Linked DNA regions of Homo sapiens: regions 1 and 2 are each reported to be linked to region 3. The links are microRNA targets in miRTarBase. Many come from high-throughput screens and were not tested one by one. Region 3 holds a microRNA gene; each other region holds the end of a gene's coding sequence.
The links. The annotated mature microRNA hsa-miR-3135b reads GGCUGGAGCGAGUGCAGUGGUG and lies in region 3 at 3,476-3,497, shown strand. An mRNA with a match to its seed (bases 2 to 7 or 8) in the 3' UTR can be bound and repressed. Matches are read on the target gene's strand: a 7mer-m8 pairs with bases 2 to 8, a 7mer-A1 pairs with bases 2 to 7 and ends in A, and an 8mer does both.

Region 1 (7,182 bases), not on the chromosome of region 3:
GGGTTATAAATTTGGGCTGCCCAGGACATCTGTCCAAGGGTGGGTGCATCTCAGAGTAATTGAGGTAAGCATGGAGACCTTGTGCCCTGCCACACTCCCCAGCTGGGGGACATTCTGACATTTGTGCCTCGGCCCCCAGCCATTGTACCCCCTTTGGTGTGTAGTGTGGGGTGACTCATTTGTGTCTTGTGGCACAGGGATAGAGCTGACCCTGCAGATCCAGAGCGACACTGGTGTCAGAGCCACCCTGAAAGAGTTCAAGGAGAGACTGGCAGGGGATAAGTACCAGGCGGCCGTGCAGGCTCTCCGGGAGGAGGTTGAGAGCTTCGCCTCTCTCTTCCCTCTGCCTGGCCTGCCTGACTTCTAAAGGAGCGGGCCCACTCTGGACCCACCTGGCGCCACAGAGGAAGCTGCCTGCCGGAGGACCCCCACCTGAGAGATGGATGAGCTGCTCCAAAGGGGAACTGTTGACACTCGGGCCCTTTGAGGGGGTTTCTTTTGGACTTTTTTCATGTTTTCTTCACAAATCAAAATTTGTTTAAGTCTCATTGTTAGTAATTCTGGGACAGGTTATTAAAGGATTTAAATTTGAACCTGGCTTTCTCACAGCTGGACATAATTCTAGGAAAATAAAATACTATGTCGCCACTTGGTCATAATCATTTAGATGGTGGTGTAGGGCAAAGCTGTTAGAAAGATTGTAGCGTTTTACTCTCCCTGGGCTTTCCTCCGCCTTGCTGCAACAGAGAGGAAATGCCCATGTCCACAGCTTGTACACACTGCCCCCTCACTATCTTGTTATCCAGTGGCATGCCAAAGGAGAACTGAATTAGCTTCTGAGGCTTCTGCTGTAAATCAGAAGTGTATGTTAGTCAAGAGTAAACAAGATGCACCCAGTATGGTGGGAGGGTTTTGCTGTCAGTAGCTCAAAGTATGGTGTAGAAATGGCCTCCTCCCTCCATCCTGGGAAGTCCCAGTCCCATCCTGGTGTGAGAATCAACCAGGCTTTCCTGCTCCACCTGAGATAACCAACTCCCTCCCGTAATCAGGAAGCCAAATGTCACCTTCCCAAAGAAATTTTATTTTCACGTAGCTGAAGTGCAAAACATAGATGACCATTTTTAATAAGCACAATCAAATTTTTAACCACAGAATGTCTACAAGAATTATAGCTTTAAAAAATACAACCAATTTTTATATTTCAAAAATATTTGAACTCAAATAAATTAATTTCTTAAAAAGTACACTTCTCATACTATGTGTTTGGCATTGACTCTGGTTAACTCTTGTGCAGCAACACCTACGAGATGCTATCACACACGCGCCAGCTGCACTCCTGCACCAGCCGCTGCAACGACTGCACCTCACGTGGTGGCGGGGACTCACATTCACAAGACGGGACGGGAACATGCAGTAATAAAATAGCTTTTTAAAAAATAACACATATAAATTCATCACATAGGATTATGCTTTTCACTGCAACCTTGAAGGTGGCATTTATCTCAATCTGTGACTCCAGCTATTTAGTGGCAGACAATCCCGGTGAGGCAGCCTGTGGTCCCACCTTGTAGGTGGCAGCCCCTGCAATCTGGGGTCTAGCCTGTCGGCGTTTGCTTTATTGTGGGTGGAGCAGCTGCTGCAGAATCTGTGAGTTGACTCACCAGTCCCTACAGTTCTGCTACCAAAGTGGTCTTCAATTTAGGGGCCTGACCCCTCCCCAGCTGGAGACAAGCTGCCATCTCCAGGGCTCGCTGTAAACAGCCTCCACTCTTGGGCTGAATAAGCACTCCCAAGAAGCTGGGCCCCTACCAACAGATTAATCGGCTGCAGAGTGCTCATCCCCTCCCCACACCCCCATCCACCCCTGCCTCCTCCTCCTTTCCACTGCTTTAACCAAACCTTAATGAGGTAAGGCCAGGCTAGGTCAGGGCTCAAAGGAAAATGGGCTCAGGAAAACTTAGTTTGCCCAGCCTTGTCAGCTGAGATTGGTTTTGCTTTCCAGCCAGAAGTAGAAACTTGATGCTTTTTCCTTTTTGCAGTGTTAAAAACCATATCTCCAGTTTTATTATGTTCCATCACAGTTTTGGGGCAAAGCCAGAAAGCTGACTTGTTTGCTTCAAAACACAAACCAAGGCACTGTCTTCTGTGCTTTTCAGGGAGGTGGGAAGGTAAAGGAGACTGCCCACTATAGGGGCTCAGTTCCCCCAAAGGCCTTGCACACCTTCTGATAAACCCCCTGGCTGAGGCAATCCTACTGGCTGTGCAGACAAAGATGTGACAGCAGCACTAGATGCTGACCCAACAAGCAGTGCTGGGCCTGGGCGGTGGGGCATGTTCAGCACTGCGGGCAGCAGTCAGCACATGCAAGACATTCAGTGAGCAGAGGGCTGCCCTCGGCCTCCAACTGCAGCCGCCCTGGCGCGTGAAATGAAATTGGTGGGCCTTCCTAGGATTGTAAAATGGGACTTGTCATTTGTGTGAGGTTGAAATCTACTATACTTTGAATATGGCAACTGTTTTCAACCACTGAAGCAAAGAAGGTAAAGGCCAGATGGGGAATGAAAGGTAAGGTACTGTGGTCTATTTCCAAATTTGGGAGCAATGTGTGTAACTTCAACTGTTGGAGTAAATGAGTTATGGAAAAGCCACAATTTCTAAAATCCCAAGGTTCTACCAAAGGAGTGAGGTTCCTGGGGAAACAGGCATGAGGCAGCAGCTCAGGCTGATGTGTCCTGTGCGATATAAAAAGCTGTGGCCTGATCTCTAAAGTGGGGCTTTTGAAAATCACCAGTCCACAACTACCTGCCTGGCTAGTTTAACCTAGACTGCTTCAGAAGCAAGGGAGGGGGATAATGGACTGGAGAAAAAGCTGACACAAAACTCAAGACAACCAGTTTCAGTACCTGGGCCCTCAAAGCAATAGTGAGGACTGAGAAAGTAGCAAGGGGCACTGATGTCATCTATTTTCTGGGAAGTGTAATTTTTAATGGTTTCATTAAAAACTTACTAACCTTCTACTGGAAGAATACCTCAAATGAAAAATTTTTTTTTTTTGAGACAGTTTTCGCTCTTGTTGCCCAGGGTGGAGTGCAGTGGCGCGATCTCGGCTCACTGTAACCTCTGCCTCCTGGGTTCAAGTGATTCTCCTGCCTCAGCCTCCCGAGTAAGTGGGATTACAGGCACGCACCACCAGACCTGGCTAACTTTCTTTGTATTTTTAGTAGAGATGGGGTTTCACCATGTTGGCCAGGCTGGTCTCCAACTCCTGACCTCAGGTGATCCGCCCACCTCGGCCTCCCAAAGTGTTGGGATTACAGGCGTGAGCCACTGCGCCCGGCCTCAACTGAAAATTCTTGATGAGATTAGTCCCACTGCATAGGTCTCAGCACTGAGGTTTAGAGATGTGAGACTCAGAGTAGGTTTCAGTTCCCCGGAGTGAAGGGGGCATAGGGAGGGGCAGGGCTTCCCAGTGTTAACTGCCTCTGCCCAAATCATGACTCAGTCCTGGTACCACGTCAAGATCCCTTTGAAAGGAAACATACTTTGCATCAAGTAATCCTTTGAAACTGCCACATTGAAAAGTTAGTTTTTAACCCAAATATAAATCTGGGAGCTAAACACTAGTCACGAAGCCATCTTTACTTAATGAAGAACCACCTTGAGGGAGACCAGCCCTGCTTGCCACTTACATGGCTGCCCCTGAGACGGTCTGTTCTGTTCATGCCCCAGCAGCCTTTTGCCTTAGGTTTCAGGACCTTCTGAACCACCCTTGAGGGTGTGTGCCAGCAAATACCTCAAGTGGACTTCTACTTAGGACCACTTGAGGGCACAACTTCAGCTTCTAGAAGGCCAAGTGTGGCTGCAATTCAGGATCTGCCCCAAACTCATCAGCCCTTCCCAAGTTTCCCAGGTGAGAACAGTATGAGCTGTGAATTTCTGTGTTGGTGTGACAGGAATGCCACAGTGGTGGTGCCAGTGATCACTTTCTGACCTTCCTTCCTTCTCAGATAAAATGTTGCACAGTTATGGCCTTGGAGGCCTAAGTAGACAGCAATTAACCAGCCAGTGAGAAAACGAATCAGCATCTAGAACAGGAGGGGAGGGAACCGTAACAGATAAGGGAGCCCACGATTAGAAGCAGGCTCCCTGCACAGCCTCTGCCTCCAGCGCAAGTAACAGACGTTTCACATTTAAAGGCTGCCAAGGTATTGCTGGCGACTCTCCTGTCTGTGAACATGCGCAACGGGCACAGGTACAGAGAACCAATGAGATGTAGGCAGCACCATCTGCCACAAAAGGTTCTCCATCGCAGCCCCAGGAGCAAAATCAAACACCTCTGATGGGAGCAAGGACCCTGAACAGAAGCCAACGGCTGGAGCCAACGGGCCATGCCCTTAAAACGAGGACTTGGACAAGGAGGGAACCACTGGAGTGACGTGATGCAAGCCCTCTTCGGTCACTCTTGGCTTCCACCAGGGGTCTCTGCCTCCTTGATGAGAAGAGAAGCTGGCTGGCTCCATGATGACCTCGATGGCGTACTACAGGCCGATGGGCAGGCCGGGCCTCAGCAGCAGGCGCCAACAGAAGCACACCCAGGGCTGATTCAGGTCCATTTCAGCATAATTTTTGTGGAACAAATTAAAGAAGCAGTAATACCAGAGCTGTCCCCACTTAGGGAATAAAATTTTCAAGGCTGCAAGAAACTCTCTGTCTACAAACCAGTGGCCATTGCCTAAGGAGGCTCGGGGAGGCCAGGGGATCACTATCAGTGGGATAGGTGCTGGCGGAACCAGGGGGTGTCTCCTTCCCAGTTTCAAACTTGTCCTCAGAAGGGGGACTCAACTGGGGACGGCCGTGAGCTGTGGTGACTGAGGTGCACACAGCCTCCCAGAGGCAGAACCTGAAGAGCGCCACGTGGTAGCTCATCCAGGAAATCCGTGCTATTTGAGTTCTCATCGGCTGGGCCAACCACCTGCACCAGCTGACTAAACAGAACCGTTGCTGTCCCAAGCCCACGAGACCCAGTGAGAGGTAGTGAAGTGGTTGCAAAGGTTTATGTGGGTGGGAGCTGGAGTGTGGCCTCTGCCATGTTCACACGGGTCTGCAGACCTTCCCCACGAGGAAGGTCAGTGCTCATGCGCTCTGGCCGGCAGGAGCCAGTGGGCCACCCAGGAGAGCTGCTGGCTGCTCCTCCCTTGCATGGTGGTGATGGCCTCATGGCGCCTCAGCCCTGCTCTGCCTGCTGTGCTCTCCAGCCCCCAAGGTGGTCCTCACCATTGGCTTTGGTCACTTGTGCCCGCTTCACACTAGGACTAGTGAACACTCTGCTCGTTCCTGGTGAAAGAGTATGGGGAGTGAGTCCCAAGGCCCGCTCACAGGCACTTCTCTCCCAGGTAAAGGTGGCGAGGACAGCGGACAGGGTGCTGCTCACGCTCTGTGGCCCTGAGGCCAAGGTCGCATGTTTCCCACGACCCAGAGGGTGGCAGCCTTTCTCACCCCCACTGGCTGGTCCAGGGCCTCCCCTAGGACAGTGGGCTCCAGGAAGCAAATAAAGGGCTGCATCTGGGTCTGAAGGAGGCGATGGGTGTTCTGCCCTCCTGTTTTCCACCAAACCACAACAGTTACCTGGCTGTCACCCTCGTTCATTTTGCCACTCAAGTGTCCGGCAATGCTGAATACAGCCAGTGTGCTCCTCCCATCAGGCTTTGGCCTTCCTGCCCTCACCCTGCCCCACCAAGGGACTGGTGGCTTCCCTTCTGCCCTGGCTGCCAGTCCTCAGAAAACCAAGGCCCCCTCCATATCCAGGGGCCACTCTTCACCAGGGAGCCAAATGTAGCTGTCACCATCCCTCCAGACGCCTTTAGAGGGAGCCAGGCTCCACTTCTGCCCATGTCCAACTTAAAAACTACTAGGAGCCACGTGGGAACCATGCTGCCAGACACCAGAAACTTAAACAGTCCAGCTCAGGCAACTGTTTGGTCATGCCAACCCCTCCCCTCCCCATACCCTGAGTCACAGGTCTTGGTCACAGTGTCTGGGACCGACCTCAGATTTTATACAAAAAGCTGGGGACATAGTCAAACCTGAGCATGGGGTGGCTGGTCCCTGGAGATTCCTGCATGTAGTGCAGCTTCAGCAGCTCAGCCAGGTACTGGACCACCCTAACATCCTCATTCACCAGACCCAGGGTCAGCTTTAGGAAGCTCATCTGGCGGCTGGCTACCAGCTCCTCTGTCTCCTTGTCGTGGGTAGGCAGGTGCAGGTGGTGGCAGAAGGTGTAGAGGAAGGCCTTGGAGCAGAGCTGGGTGAGCATGCTCTGGACATGCAGGTAGTAGGTGCTGCCCCGCTTGATCTGTGTGCGGTGGTCTGCCAGGCGGGGCACCAGGGTGCCTCTGTAAAGGGGGCAGCGCAGGGTTTTGTTGTCAAGGTCCAGGATGCTCGTGTAGCGGCTGTAGCGGCTCAGGGCATGGAGGGTACCGGCACCGGCAGGGGAGGCCACTCTGAAACAGACAGGCCAAGGTCAGGAGGAAGGGCAAGGGCCGGGAAAGTGGAGGCAGAAGCTTGGGAGGTGAGGCCTCCTGTCCCCAGGCCAGCATCCACCTAGCCAGCATGCACTGGCTCTTCCTGGAAGACAAATCTGATCATTGTAATCTTCAAAGGGCTCCTCACCACTCTTATGACCAAGGTCAAAAACACGCTGGGTGGCCCACAAAGCCCTTTGTGGTCCGATTCCTGCTGAATGGACTCTTTTTTGGAGCCATGGCAAGCTTTCAGTGGGGCCTTAGAATTACAAACCTCTTTGTTCAGGCCAGGTGCAATGGCTCACACCTGTAATCCCAGCACTTTGGGAGGCCGAGGCAGGCGCATCGTGAGGTCAGGAGATCGAGACCATCCTGGCTAACACGGTGAAACCCTGTCTCTACTAAAAATACAAAAAATTAGCCGGGTGTGGTGGCAGGTGCCTGTAGTCCCAGCTACTTGGGCGGCTGAGGCAGGAGAATGCTGTGAACCCAGGAGGCAGAGCTTGCAGTGAGCCAAAATCGTGCCACTGCACTCTAGCCTGGGCAACAGAGCGAGACTCTGTCTTAAAAAACAAAACAAACAAAAAAACCTCTTCTTTCTGCCTGAAATAACCTCTCTCTCTTGTACTTAGCTTAATTTAAAGCATATTCAGCCTTCCCT
Region 2 (7,192 bases), not on the chromosome of region 3:
GGGCAGAAAGGGTGAGGGAGATAGAGGGGGTAGAGCAGCACAAGAAAAACCAACAGTGCTTGGCAACTGGAAATGGAAATCAAGGGAAAGGAGTGGTTCAGAGAGTACCCGTGGTTCCACTGTGGATGAGGAGAGAGACATGTCTGCCCATCAAGCACTTAGAATTCTTTTTTGGAAAGTAAAACCAGTACATATGAAACAATTGAAGAATCAATGTGTTATCACATGTAAGTGGATTTGGCTTATGTAGGAAAAAGGGAAGTTCACTGTTGCCCAGGGAGTCATCACTCAAGATGGGGGATTTGAGCTGTGCCCTTGAAGTGACACAGGCCTTGGAGAGCAGGGGTGGCCATTGCCAGCGCAAGGAGAACTGTATGAATATAGACACAGGATAGAGAGTGGGCAGCCTTGTACCCTCTGGCCCGACTTACTGGAGAGTAGCAGGAGCATGAAATTGAAAAGGAAACATCTTATCAAACTTGATGTTCCAAGAAAGAAGAAAGGAAAAACCTGTTTGTGCCTAGTAAGTTACAGCTCTCATCCTGTAACTTTGGTGTCTCAGATTGTAAAATGTGTGCTCTATCTAGAGTGTCAAGATGAACATTTTACCATCTGTGGATGAAGTAGTATAGAGAGGGTTGGGTAGGTATCATTTTCTCTTAAAAATCTATTCCTCTTACTGAAAAGACAGTTGACAGGAAGAGCAAGCAAACATGCCAAGAAGTTGTTAGCAAGGAGTGGCAGGGAGGAATTGCCCACCACTTCTCCTCCAGCTCAGACTCTGGTAACCAAGGCCACAGGCTCCAAGGAAGCTTACGCGGGACTGGTGCTTACGTTCTTGTCTCTCTCCGTCCCCACAGGAATCTCCGCCAGCAGTCCTCTGCAGACATCCCTTGTTCGGCCTGCTGGCCTTGCTGACTTTGGACCTTCAAGCGCCTCTTCTCCTTTGAGTTCCCCTTTGAGCAAGGGAAATAATGTTCCTGGGAATCCCAAGAACCTCCACATGACCAGCAGCCTAGCCCCAGACTCTCTGGTCCGGAAACAGGGCAAAGGCACCAACCCCTCTGGAGGACGGTAACCATCTGGGCCCTCCGACTTCCTTCAACCAAACCAGGGCTAGAGTCCTGACCTGCCAGTGGTCTTTGGATGGCTTGCCCCGTGCAGCATCTTGCATCCTGAGTCAGAAGTGGAAATGTCCAGCAGGGGAAGGACAGGCAGGTGGATGGTGTGAGCACTTTTATCATCTGTGTCTCATCAGGAGCATCTGGGGTGCCTGTAGGAGGAAGGCCACAGGGCATGGATCAGCCCCACTGCATCTCAAGTGAACTGTATAGCCAAGTCTTAAACCTCTCACGGGGCAAGCCTGACACAGACCCCCTTTAGATGCTCAGGCATACTGTTTCCATCCCGATTCCACTCTTCGGCTCTGACACGTCCCTTGCAAAGTCTCCGCAGGTGCTGTGAAGAGCCTTCCATGGTAGAGATTTCTCTTAAGAGTGTGATTTCTCATAGGGCTAGTAAGGGAGATTGTATACCTGTTGTCCACAGTCTTCAGGCAGCTCCCCAGGTCTCTGAACCCCAGAGTGTCATCATTGGAGAGAGCAGTGACTGCGAGAGATGGTGGAGGCCGCTAAGCATGGTAGAGGCTAGAGGAAGTCTATCCACAGGCAGTTGTGTTCCCAGCAATTCCTCCCATCCTGCATGGTTCACACCAAGAGAACCTTCAGATCCTACCAGCAACCGTAGCACCTTCCACCCAGGGGACTCCCAGAAGCCAGTAGAGAGACCAGGAGCCACCTCAATCAGCAGGACAGCCTCACTGCCCCTCTTGCAGAGTCCCCTTTGCCCATCCTGAATGCACAGTCTCCCTGCTCATGCCCTTCAGTCCCCTGCTTGGCTGTATGCACTGTCTATATTGCACTGAGAGAGGAAGGGACAGCAGGAGTGAGGTGAAGAGGGCGGAGAGAGGGGGCAGGCTCGGCACCGGCCCTCCCAGCCCGGCCAGCCTGAGCTTGCTGCCCTCCAGTAGAGACAGAGGGGCAGTGTTTGCATGGGAGGTGTTTCTGCCTGTCCCTGCCTGATGTCCCTGGTGGAGCAGGTACCTCCGGGCGGGCAAGCCTCTGATTTGCACACCTGAAAATCGCGGAATTGAGTTTCGATAGATTGATTTTTAAAACTTTTTTGGAGTAGGGGGTATAGGGGAATCATTTAATTTAAATCATTAAGATTCCCCTGCTCAAACCCAGATTCCTGTGTACAGATGCTATTTAGAGGGAATCAGAAAAATGCCAAGCCTTTTCTCTTTGAATGTGCTATTTTTATAACTGAACTTGTACATATGTATAAAGAGAGACACATCTTCCTTTTACTAACTGGATAAAAAAATCTTAAATAAAATGGAGTGAGATAATTTTATGTAAATTGAGGTGTCTGTGGTCTTTGCAGCTGCCCCTCCTTGGAGGCAAACTAGAGCCCTTGGTGGATGTGGCAGGATACAGGGAAAGCAGAGCCCTCGCCTGTGATCAGAGAGGACAGGGGTTGGTGGGACAAGGAGTGGACTGTGGGTGTTTCCTTAGTAGCAGAATTGATTGGGCTTATGAATTTGCCTCTGGCCATCAGAAAGGAAGCTTGACCAACTGTCTGACATGCAGTGGTCAACGCCCTTGTCTCCATGGTGGGCTCTTTATGACTCAGGACTTAGACCCCAGGACTGAGGTGTGGGCGGCTTGGCCTAGGCGCCATTAAGCAGAGCTACATAGTGGTCATCTTAATAGTGGCAGTGTTCTCAAAGTTAGCTGCACTCTTAAGAATCATGAAAGAAAATGGTGAAATACATTCCTAAGGATGCCAGAGACATCCAGGCTGTGAAAACTTACCTTGGTGATAGTTGGGAAAAGAGCCCTAGTTCCCAGCCTGGCCTGGCAGCCAGCGTTTCTCTGACTGGGTGAAACACTGATAAGCTCTTGTATCACTTTTGGGTAGGGCTCATGTGGTTCCCAAGTATGCTGGCTGTGTGGCCTCCCTAGCCTTGCTCACCCTGCACGCTGTTGGTCAGGGTGGGCTGGCTCCTGGGCAGCTGATGCCCACCACAGTCACAAGGATCAGCCTTTCTTCATTGACATCAAGTACATTACTAGATACTCTGGATCTTGTTTATCTTGCTGGTGAACTTGACCAAGGCCTCACACAGAATAAACCAACATCAGAACTAAGCAGCTCTGCCTTTACATGCTATGTAAAGATTTTTCATAAGAAAAGATAGTAATTTGAAACCTGAATTGTCCCTTAAGGCAACGCTTCTCCAGTGTTAATGTGCACACAAATCACCTTGAGATCATAACATGCAAGTTCTGTTTCTGAAGGTCTAGGTTGAGGCTTGAGACTGAGTTTCTTGAGAAGATCCCAGGTGATGGCCATGCTGCTTGCTAGTCCTTGGACTACCCCTGGAATAACAAGGCCCTAGGGTGCCTTCCAGCCCTGCCAAGCAGGAAAAATCTCTGCTCTTTGCTTATATGCCCGCACCCCAGCCAGGAAGCCCGGTGCAGGAAATACTTTATTTTTCCTCTTACCCAGCTTAATACACCTGATGACAGAAAATGAAATCCTAGCATTTCTAGAGAAATTCAATCCCTTATATGTTTTCTCCATTTTTGTTTTGTTTTTTCATTTTTAAACTAACTGTTCATCATTTTCTCCATCACTTCCTGGGTAGCACCTCTGTTGGGCATGTTAGGTATGAGAGAAGGCCTCAGATTTGCTACTGTCCCTCTCCTGTGTGGCCTCCACCAAGATGCAATATGTCATGAAGAGTCTGTGACCCCTGGACTCAGTGTTTCCTGTGCCTGTGTCCTTTTATTGTGACCACCAGACTCCTGGATCAGTCATCTTTCTCAACTAATTCCTAAGCCCCTCTCAGGGGGCATGGAGACCGTTTGGCTGCTCTCCCACGCTTCTCTGAGACTACCAGAGAGTCGCGAAACCCCCAACTGGGGAGGCAGCGTGTTGACCATGGGTGCCCAGTTCAGCCAGCCTCATGGTGCACATTCAGACCACTTAGATGGTGGGGTAGGGAGAAGGCAGGTTGTGTTCTAGAGAAAGCAGAGACGTCCGGTTGTCACGAAATTGTGTGTCCAAGTACTAAGGCGGCCCACTGCCTCATCAAAGGACCCTGAGGAAGCTGGGTGCCTCCCTTATCTGGCCTCTTCCTGCGCCCTCATTTCTTTCTTGCTTCAGGTCCTGGGACTTAGCTGGCTTCCCTTTCCTCTTCAAAACTGCCACCACCCACTCTCTCGCTCCAGTTTCTCCCCCAACCCCCACCCCCGTGGCAAGCTGCTGGGGGATGGACTCCTGGTTCTCTCCTAGCTGCTGCCAGAAGTGAGCATCATGCTTTTCTTTTTTTTAAATTAAGGATTTTCTTGCTCATCACAACAAGGACACCAGGCAAAAACAATACTGTATACAGAGAATTACAAAGCTTGAGATACTTCACAGTCCTCACAGAATCCCTGCCTACAGTTCCTGGCACCTTTGGTGAGAAACAAGGATTCCTGAGGGAGAGGCTCCTGGACTCTTACCTCCTTCCTAGAGAGCTGAGTTCTTTCTTCCAGAAAGGCATATGGAATGTGCATCTGTGAGTGCCCACAAGGCCTCTGCTCTCCTGCCACTTGGGATTTCATTGTTCTGGCACACAAATCTCAAAGATAAATATGTGGCCCAAGGATTGGGGAGGCCCCTCTGGGTCTGACTTGGCAACAGCCTCAGGGGAAGAAGGAAGGGGGCACAGAGGTTCAAAGTTGGAGGTGGTGGGGAGTTTTCTAAGTTTGCTCAGCTGATGCCCCCCTAAAGCAGCTCTGGGAGAGAATGCCCGGCCTCAGCTCAGAATGTTCCACCCTCCTACCACCCCCCCAGCACATCACCACAAACCCCACCCTGAACTAGAGGCCCACCCCCCAAGCTGTTCCTGGCTGCCAGAGAAGAAAGGAGCTCCCCTCCCATTTCCCAGATGAGAGGTCCCAGAAGACCTATGCTGCTCCATGCCTTGCACCCTTGAAGAGATGGTGCCAGTTACCTGGGGATGTCTGAGCAGAGTGGTGGGGAGAGTTCAGGTCCAATGGATTGTCAGTGCAGTTCAGCTTCAGCAGTCTTAGTTTGCCTTCGGCCCGGTGGAATTGGGAAGAGCAGCATAAACTCTTACCTAGAATTTTTCTGAATAGCTAAGTCTTTCAGAGGGCTAACATTTTAACCCGGTATTCTAAGCACCAGAATTTGGCTTGGTTAGAACTCTCTTTTAAGGATACTGTGTCACTGCATGGCTAAACAGAACATACCGAACATACCTTAACCTTTCCTAAGGGCTTGGGGTCATGTGGGCATCTGGTGCTCTCAGGCCCACTGGGACGTACTACTGTTTCCCCTGGATTAAATCATGCCAACAGCTACACTGCCACAAATTGTCTGTGAGACAGGATTTTGCTCTGTCACCCAGGCTGGAGTGCAATGGTGCAATAACAGCTCACTGCAGCCTCGACCTCCCAGGTTCAAGCAATCCTCCCTGATCAGCCTCTACCATAGTGCTGGGGTTCCAGCCACAGTTCTTAAGCTCTGAATAGTACCAGTGCCAGTGCCAGCTGCCTCAGTGTTTTTGTATTTATATGATGAGATAGCTGCTCCTCTTAAAAAATAAAATCTGGGCTGGGCGCGGTGGCTCACGCCTGTAATCCCAGCACTTTGGGATGCCAGGGCGGGTGGATCACAAGGTCAGGAGATTGAGACCATCCTGGCTAACAGGGTAAAACCCTGTCTCTACTAAAAATACAAAAAATTAGCTGGGCGTGGTGGTGGGCGCCTGTAGTCCCAGCTACTCAGGAGGCTGAGGCAGGAGAATGGCATGAACCCGGGAGGCAGAGCTTGCAGTGAGCTGAGATTGCGCCACTGCACTCCAGCCTGGGCGACAGAGCAAGACTCCGTCTCAAAAAAAATAAAAATAAAATCTTTTTTTCCCCCAAACACTGATCTTAACACCCCTTCTTCTAATGTACCTTTTCTAAATTGTTGGGGGCTTGGAAATCATTTAACTAACTCAGAACTTCTGAGCTAACAAAAAGAACTTCAGAGGAGGATTGTAGGATGTCCTAGGAATTAAGTGACTGAGCTTCAGTGCATGCTTTCCACGGATGCCTGTGGCCCTCTGCTGGGCCGCAGTACCACAGTTCTGGTTAAGTAAAGTAACATGTTCTAGATAAGGGTGTTCCGGTTTGAACCAGTTCAATAAAGTTTGTTGATTTTACTCCTTTTTTTCATTCTTTGAAAAAAAAAAAAAGTATAGATCACCTTGCACATCTAGGAAAAGTTCTGCCAAGGGGTCTAGGTAGTAGACTGGTGCATGCTCCCTCTCGGACTCCATCTGCAGGCAGAGTAAGTCAGTATAGTCCATCACCGGATTTTAGTAGGAGCAGTGAAAATGAAATGGGCAAGCTCAAAAGCCAGTGTCTTTGCACTTCATCTCCACTACCCATGCCTCATCTTTATTGGACTAGGCTGGTCATCCCTAGGGAGTAATTTGGACTAGGCTGGTCATCCCTAGGGAGTAATTGCAGTGTCTGTCCACTGGTTGGGCCATAAGCCCTCTGACCAATTAATATCATTGTTCATATTGGTTAGGGTAACACATGATGCTGTAACAGACCCCAAAATGCTTAAATATCTTATTTAATGGCTTAAATAAGATATAAATTCTTATCTCTCACATGTAAGAGTTTGAATTTGGATCTGCTCTACACGAACATTGAAGGTCCCACATTCTTTCCATCTTGTTTCTCTGCTGTTTTGATGCTTTTGTCCTCATCAGCATGGTCATTACTGGTTTATAGAAATGTCCTATGGGGCCGGACACAGTGGCTCACACCTGTAATCCCAGCACTTTGGGAGGCTGAGGCAGGCGGATCACTTGAGGTCAGGAGTTCGAGACCAGCCTTGCCAACATGGTGAAACCCCATCTCTACTAAAAATACAAAAATTAGATGGGCATGGTGGCGGGCACCTGTAATCCCACCTACTCAGGAGGCTGAGGCAGGAGAATCAGTTGAATGCAGAAAGCGGAAGTTGCAGTGAGCCAAGATTGTGCCACTGTACTCCAGCCTGGGCAACAGAGCAAGACTCCATCTCAAAAAAAAAAAAAAGAAAATGAAATGTT
Region 3 (7,171 bases):
ATGGATGCCAAGGGACAACTGTATGATATTGTTAACTAGTCACCATGCTGCACAATTGATCTTCAGTACTTATTCCTCCTCTCTAACTGAAACTTATACCTTTTGACCAACATCTCATTCCTTTTTCTCCCTCTCCCCACACCCCACCCCCTCCATGACTTTGACTTTTTAAGATTCTGCATATAAGTTAGGTCATGTCGTATTTGTCTTTCTGTGCCTGGCTTATTTCACTTAGCATACTGTCCAATGGGTTCGTCCATGCTATAAATGACAAGATTTCCTTCTTTTATACGGCTGAATAGTATTCCATTGTGTATATGCACCACATTTTTTTTATCCATTCATCTGCTGATGGATAGTTAGGTTGATTCCATCTCTTGGCCATTGTGAATAGTGCTGCAATAAACACGGGAGTGCAGATATCTCTTTGATACAGATTTCATTTTCTTTGCATATGTACCCAGAAGTGGAACTGCTGGATCATGTGGTAGTTTTATTTTTAATTTTTAAATAGATGCTGAATTTTATCTGTTTGTTTTCTTCCACATGAATGTATATGTACTCCCAGGAACTAGAACAGTGTTTCTGCCGTCAGTGCTGTTCCACTGTACCTAAACTCCTCCCTTTGAGACTGAACGATTTATTCTGTCATTGCTGGGAATGTTGCTGGCTGACTGCCCTCAGCTTTCAGTCACGCCCCGGAATTGCCTTAGGTGATGAAAGCTGCCTCATCGGATTTTGATCCACTTCCCAGGAGGAACTCGCCTATAATGATTGGTCAGTATAGGAGTATACAACCTGCTCTAATTTGGGCCGACTCTGAGGGGCTCTTGCAGCTTCTGAATAGCTTAGGCCGAAGAATAACAGTCCATTTTTTTTGTAACTGAAATAATAGTCCAATTTCTAAAACCTTGCTCTAATTCATGAGTCATTTTACATACTTTTTCCAGTTGTGATTGTAATTTAAATATATTGATCTTTGTGACTTCTGTAAGTATGGGCAATGCCTCTTCCCCTCCTTCTTGGAAGATGAAGTTATTGGCATTTTCACCCTCCCTTTCCCCTCTCCTTTACACTTCCAGTTGCCATAATGAAGTATCTACATCTTTTTTTTCCCCCCAATATTGTCAAAGCTGAAAATATTGACATTCTGCTGTAGCAATAAGATTCCTTGGGCTTTGCTCACAGATTAATTCTAAATTTGAAAAAAAAAAGTTTATCACTTTCTAAATATCACTTATGTAGTCAGGTATTCTTTGCTTGCCAAGAAACTGCTGTAGTAGGATCCGTTTTCAGTGAGATCCTGGGTTAGACCCAGTTTCCTGGATTCCTTACCTTCCTATATCCTGATTAACAATCTCAATTGGTCATATCCTTAGTCAATTTCTAGTAAAACTCTGCGTGGTAGGTAAATTTTATGTTCTTTCACATTCACAGGTATTTTTATTCTTTCTCCATGCCTGATTGTGACTTTGAAAAGATCTACATTTATTAATAAAAAATAATTTTCCTTTAGAACTTCAAGGACTTTCTCATTATCTTAATAATAGAAGTATTTTTTTTGTTGTCAGTTTGTTTCATTTTGGTTTCCGCCACTGGAATATTTTATGACTTTTCTATAACACCTGAAGTTCTGAAATTTTGAAAATGAGATATTTAGAAGTGAGTCTGTTAATTTTGCTAAATACCTGACAAGACTATTCCATGGAAGAATTAAATCCTTTATATCTGGAACATTTTCCCTTATTATTTGTTCTGATCATTTTCTCCCTTCATCTTCCCTGTTGGTCTCTCTAGCTTTGTCACTTGATGTTTGACTTCCTTGGTCTGTTCTCCATCTTATTTTTTCTACCATATATTACATTTTTTTTTTGCCTTTTAAATTACTGTGAGATTTTCTTGATTTAATTTTCCAATCTTTCTATTAAATTTTCCAATTGTTTTTAGCATTCTATTATTACTTTTACAGATCAAGAATTCTAATTAGAATGACTTTAAACTTGTTTGCTGTTACATGAACTTTCTCTATTAAATCTGTGATAATTTTCATGTTATTTTATTCTCATCTTCTCTTTCATATTGTAAGAGTTTCTCAAACATTTGCTCTGGCCTCTTCAACCTTGTCCTTTACCTACTGTATACCACCTTATTTCATCTCAAGATACATTTCTTCAAGCCACTTCTAAACTGCCCCAAACCATACCTGGTCCCTGTGCAACACTCTCTCATTTTACCTCATTCTTTTTCTTTATAAATGTTTCAGACCTTGTAACTATGTTTGTGGAATTATGTAATATATGTATTTTCCTCCCACTGGAGTGTAAGTTCTATGAAGATAATGAATGTAATTGTTTTCACATTATTTTAATAACATTCAACAAACTATGAGTACTTATTGTAGCACTGGTACTCAATGACCATTTTTGCATTTTTGATGAATTAGTGAATATATAAACAAGTCTGGGGGCTTAGTCCAGCCAATAATAAAGCAAGCATTACTTTGCTTTCCTTTGTTATTATTAGTTCCTGCATACACATTCTTTATAGTTGCATTCCTGAGAGGTTCTTACAGTCTTGGGCAGGCCTTGGACAGGGTTTCCTAAATGTGATAAAAATGAGAAAAACTGAAAAACTAACATAACTTCAAACAGAATGCTTGTCTGCCTATGTTTATGGGACTTTCCTGAATACATTTAAAAAAAAAACCTTTGTATTACAGAAAATTTCAACTGTGTGCAATAGTACAGAGAAGAATTCCATGTATCAACAGCCTTGCTTTAACAATAATCAATTCATGAGCAATTTTGTAAACCCACCCAGTTATCATACAGGCACATACTGGATTATTTTGAAGATATTTTTAGGTATCATATTTCATTTATACATTTTTATTATGAAAATCTAAAATATAATGGCTTTTTAGAAACATAACAGCAATGCCACTAACACATTTAAAACGAGATAAATAATTCCTTAATACACTCAGTGTCAATTTTTCTGATTGCCTCATATAAATTTTTTAACAGATGTTTTGTTTGAATATGAATCTAGACAAAGCTCAGCGTTTGGTTACTATATTTCTTCAGTCTTTTTCAAGTGTATAGCTTTTCTTTTCTCTATTTTTAACTTTTTTTGCAAATTGTTTGCTGGAGAAATCTTTTTATTTAATCTAGTAGAACTTCTCATATTCTGAATTTTGTTGCTTACATCCTTGTGGTGTCATTCATCATGGGATTTTGTCTTGGACTCCAGAAAATAACAATAACACAAATTTGTTAACTTCTATAAACTGCTTACTATGGGCCAGACTGTGTGTGAAGTGCTTTATTTGTAATGTTTAATTCTTCATATCTCTAGTTTGTATGTGGTAAGTACAAACCTGAAATATTTTACGTGATTTTTACGTTTTGTAATTTTTATTTATTTATTCATTTATTTATTTATTTTTAGAGACGGGGTCTCGCTGTGTTGCCCAGGCTGGAGCGAGTGCAGTGGTGCAGTCAGTCCTAGCTCACTGCAGCCTCGAACTCCTGGGCTCAAGCAGCAATCCTCCTGCCTCAGCCTCCCTACTAGCTGGGACTACAGACTGGTCTCCATCTCCTGGGCTTTAAGGGACCCTCACCTTGTGCTGAGATTACAGGCATGAACCATTGTGACTGGAAATTTTGTAAAATTTAAACAATGTGATATTACCTATTAATGAAGTCATACTTTATGTATGTAATCTGAAATAATTCAGATAACAATTTTTAAGAATCATTTAATTTAAAATCATGCAGCCTGATTTATAACTGTTTATAATAATAATATAATAATATAATAATGATGATTTCACTTTGAACTTTTAGCTGATAAAAAGATATATTTGCTCTATTTTATAAAACTAATTTTAGCTATGCTATTTTAACATTATATAAATACTTTTTGAATACATTCTTTCAGTAAAATCCAACTACCATTATATTTGCTTTCCTCAGTATTTCTTGGGGAAGGATTCTAAATAGGGGAGCATTTGTGTATTTCTGTATGACTCTGGTTATAATGCCATTCAATGTAAGCCTTACACACACACACACACACACACACACACACACACACACACAAATGCACACACCTCCAGAATGCTGGGTTCTTGGCTCATGAATCATTGAAATTTATATAAAATTTATTTTAAATCCTATTGCAGAAAAGTTCTTAGCACATTCATGCATTTTCATGTGACCATTTTTATACTACAGTTTTAATTTTATATATTTGGGATCATTATTGTTGACCTTTTCTTTTCTTTTTTTTTAATAGAGTTTATTTTAGAGAAGTTTTAGGTTCCCAGAAAAATTGTAGAGTACAGATAGATGTATCCCATATGCTCTCTGTTCCCACACATGCATAGCCTCCCCCACTAGTAACATCCTTCATGACAGAGGTACATTTGCTACAACTTATGAACTTACACTGACACATCATTATCACCCAAAGTCCATAGTTTATATTAAGGTTCATTCTTGGTGTTGTACATTCTATGGATTTGGGCAAGCGCATAATGATATTTATTCACCATTGTGGTATCAAATAGAGTAGTTTCATTGCCCTAAAAATCCTCTGTGTTCTGTGATGGACGTTTTCATGATCACCACTGGTTCAGATTCCCTGCACTTACTAATTCCCAGTCTGCATTTATAATTATTTTCTCCCGGAGTCTCCCCACCTCCTCCCCAAAGTAAATATGGATAAACTGCTGTTGCATATAATTCACCTTGACTTAAAATTTATGGGACATAAGGAGGGAATATACCCCTTAGAGAGTTAAAAACCGAAGTCAAATATTACAACTTCTTGTCCTAAGAGTTCTCTTAGCAACCCAATCTCAGCCTCTCAAGAAAGAAAAAAATCCTCCAGTTAACATATGAAAAGAAACTCACTTTTACGTCTACGCTTGAATCTCCTAAATCACTAAAGGGCTAAGGAAAACAAATGTACTTTTCATATAATATGATCCATTCTTTTTAATAAATCCATTATAAACATAACTGCAGTGTTTTCTTATATATTTATATACTACGTGTAAGGCACTGTCTATATACCAAGATTATTCAAATTCTGTCAATAACTCTGCAAGGAAAATATTATCACTCCCACATTGTGGATGAGAAAAATAAGGTTCAGAAATGTCAATCAGATACTTTACCCAGTAAAGTTTAAAATACTAGCTTCAAAATACTGAGTCAAGTATTTGGATTTAGGTTTCTTTGTACAAAACTATGCTGTATCAATTATTATGTTAATGTTTTGTCTCTTTTTTTTCTCCTATTACATTTTAAACTCACTGATGCAGATAGCATGGACAGAAATATCCTGGCAGATTTCATAGCTGTTTAGAGCTCTCAGGTCCCTGTGGACCCATTTCCTCTGAGAGATTTTCTATTAGGAGACCACGAATCCAGTGTAGGACACAGCACCCACTACTGCTGCTACATTGTCTCAACTGTCTTGTTCTTCCTAGGATTTCTCTCTCATAGGCTCATGCTTTCCTTAGCCAGGAAGGGGGAGGAGCAGGGGGCTGGGGCCCCTAAATGGGTCTGTAGCTTCTACTTCTATCTGTTTTCCATTGTCACTAACCCTAAGTAAGGAACAAGCATTTGTTCCTTTTCAGATACCCCCTTATATTATTGCCTTATTTTAATATTTTTCTTTTTTAAAAAATTTATTTATATGTATTTATTTATTTTTGAGATGGAGTTTCATTCTGTTGCCCAGGCTGGAGTGCAGTGGCACAATCTTATTGCAACCTCCACCTCCCAGGTTCAAGCGATTTTCCTGCTTCAGCCTCCTGAGTAGCTGGGATTACAGGTGCCCAGCACCATGCCCAGCTAATTTTTGTATTTTTAGTAGAGACAGGGTGTAACCACGTTGGCCAGGCTGGTCTCGAAGTCCTGACCACAAGTGATCTGCCCACTTTGGCCTCCCAAAGTGTTGGGATTATAGGTGTGAGCCACCGTGCCTGGCCTTATTTCAATGTTTTTCTAACTGGCTTCCATTTCTTTTCCTGCCTAGAGAATTTTTATCTCCTCAAGGTGAGAAGGGGAGAGGAAAGCTTCTACTGTTGTCATTCTTCACAAATTTAAAGTTTTGAGAATGCAGTTTGACTTTTGGTAACAAAATTTTTTACTTTTGATAACTTTTGAGATTCAAAATTCTTGTATCCTATTTCTCTGTCATTCCTTTTAAGAGCCATATTGAAATTAGTACAGACTTTTTTTTTTTTTTTGTATTTCTGCTATAACCATTCTGAGCCAAGGGCAGAGGGTTCGTTGGTACCTGAATTGAGGGGTGGCTGGCAGTGGCCAAGGGTAGGAACAAAAGGAAGAAAGAAATATTAACACCAGTTAAGAAATCAACAAATTATCAGGATACACTGTACTTGGTTGCTCCTGTGTTACTGGACTTGAAATATGATCTGGGGAATGATATGAAATTGGCCTAAAACATAAGAGTCGCCCATTCTAAGTTATGCTCTCAGTCAGCCCTGAGATGAAAGATGGGAAAAATTCAATAGAGGCATCAAAAGGGAATTTATTGCTTCCATGGAGATTTTAGATAAAGGTCATTGAGGAATTAGGTAGCTGAGTGGCTTACCCAGGCATCCCTTAGTAGGTAACATTTGAGAAAATAAAAAAATTCAGGAAAGGAGGTCAGGGAAAGAATTGAAAGGCATTTGTGAGCTCTGAGGGAATATAGCACCTTAAGTCCCAGAGAAGAGGTGAGAGAAGAAACATTTGGAGGAGAAAAGGGATATGATAAATCAGGCCAGAGAATAGTGCTAGGTCATTTAGCAAGTCCATTCTTCTTCTCCTGTAGATGGTGATGCACCTGCAACAGGACAGACATGAGATCGATGGGTCTGAGGGGCCTCCTGTGTGATCATCATGCCACTTCCCAATTCGCCTACAACTTTCAACCACATTCATGTCCACAACCCCCTCCCACTTTCCTCCCTCTCATACTGAGGTTTCAGCTCCAACAAATCTCAATCTTACCTTCCTTTTCAGGATGGGATTCATAAGAGCCCTTGGTGTCTGGAAGCACCAACTGAACGCAGGCCTTGGATGATGAAGACAGTGCCCACCACAATGCCCATGAGGCCCACAGACAACCCCAGGGCGCAGACCAAAGT

Region 1: the mRNA of SMCR8 is a reported target of hsa-miR-3135b. Seed matches in the 3' UTR shown: 7mer-m8 at 5,068-5,074, 7mer-m8 at 4,372-4,378 and 7mer-m8 at 1,721-1,727.
Region 2: the mRNA of INO80 is a reported target of hsa-miR-3135b. Seed matches in the 3' UTR shown: 7mer-A1 at 1,196-1,202.

The regions. Positions count from the first base shown.
Region 1 is chr17:18,321,935-18,329,116 of GRCh38, reverse strand. SMCR8 (SMCR8-C9orf72 complex subunit) reads right to left here. Exons shown (of 2, transcript NM_144775.3): 2 at 1,061-6,500. The coding sequence ends at 6,047. It overlaps SHMT1 (serine hydroxymethyltransferase 1), which reads left to right. Exons shown (of 12, transcript NM_004169.5): 12 at 198-1,244. The coding sequence ends at 367. Among named protein-coding and RNA genes, the nearest start is that of SMCR8, 10 kb to the right of the region's middle. RefSeq lists a silencer at 3,284-3,393 and enhancers at 5,923-6,422, 6,423-6,924.
Region 2 is chr15:40,974,109-40,981,300 of GRCh38, reverse strand. It overlaps INO80 (INO80 complex ATPase subunit), which reads left to right. Exons shown (of 36, transcript NM_017553.3): 36 at 861-2,421. The coding sequence ends at 1,078. It overlaps LOC105370789 (a long non-coding RNA gene), which reads right to left. Exons shown (of 4, transcript XR_007064601.1): 4 at 6,340-6,403. It overlaps LOC124903476 (a long non-coding RNA gene), which reads right to left and starts at 924. Exons shown (of 3, transcript XR_007064602.1): 1 at 835-924. RefSeq lists an enhancer at 4,213-5,412.
Region 3 is chr6:32,746,278-32,753,448 of GRCh38, reverse strand. It overlaps MIR3135B (microRNA 3135b), which reads left to right and starts at 3,470; the gene lies at 3,470-3,537. HLA-DQA2 (major histocompatibility complex, class II, DQ alpha 2) reads right to left here. Exons shown (of 5, transcript NM_020056.5): 4 at 7,035-7,171; 5 at 6,251-6,867. The coding sequence ends at 7,055.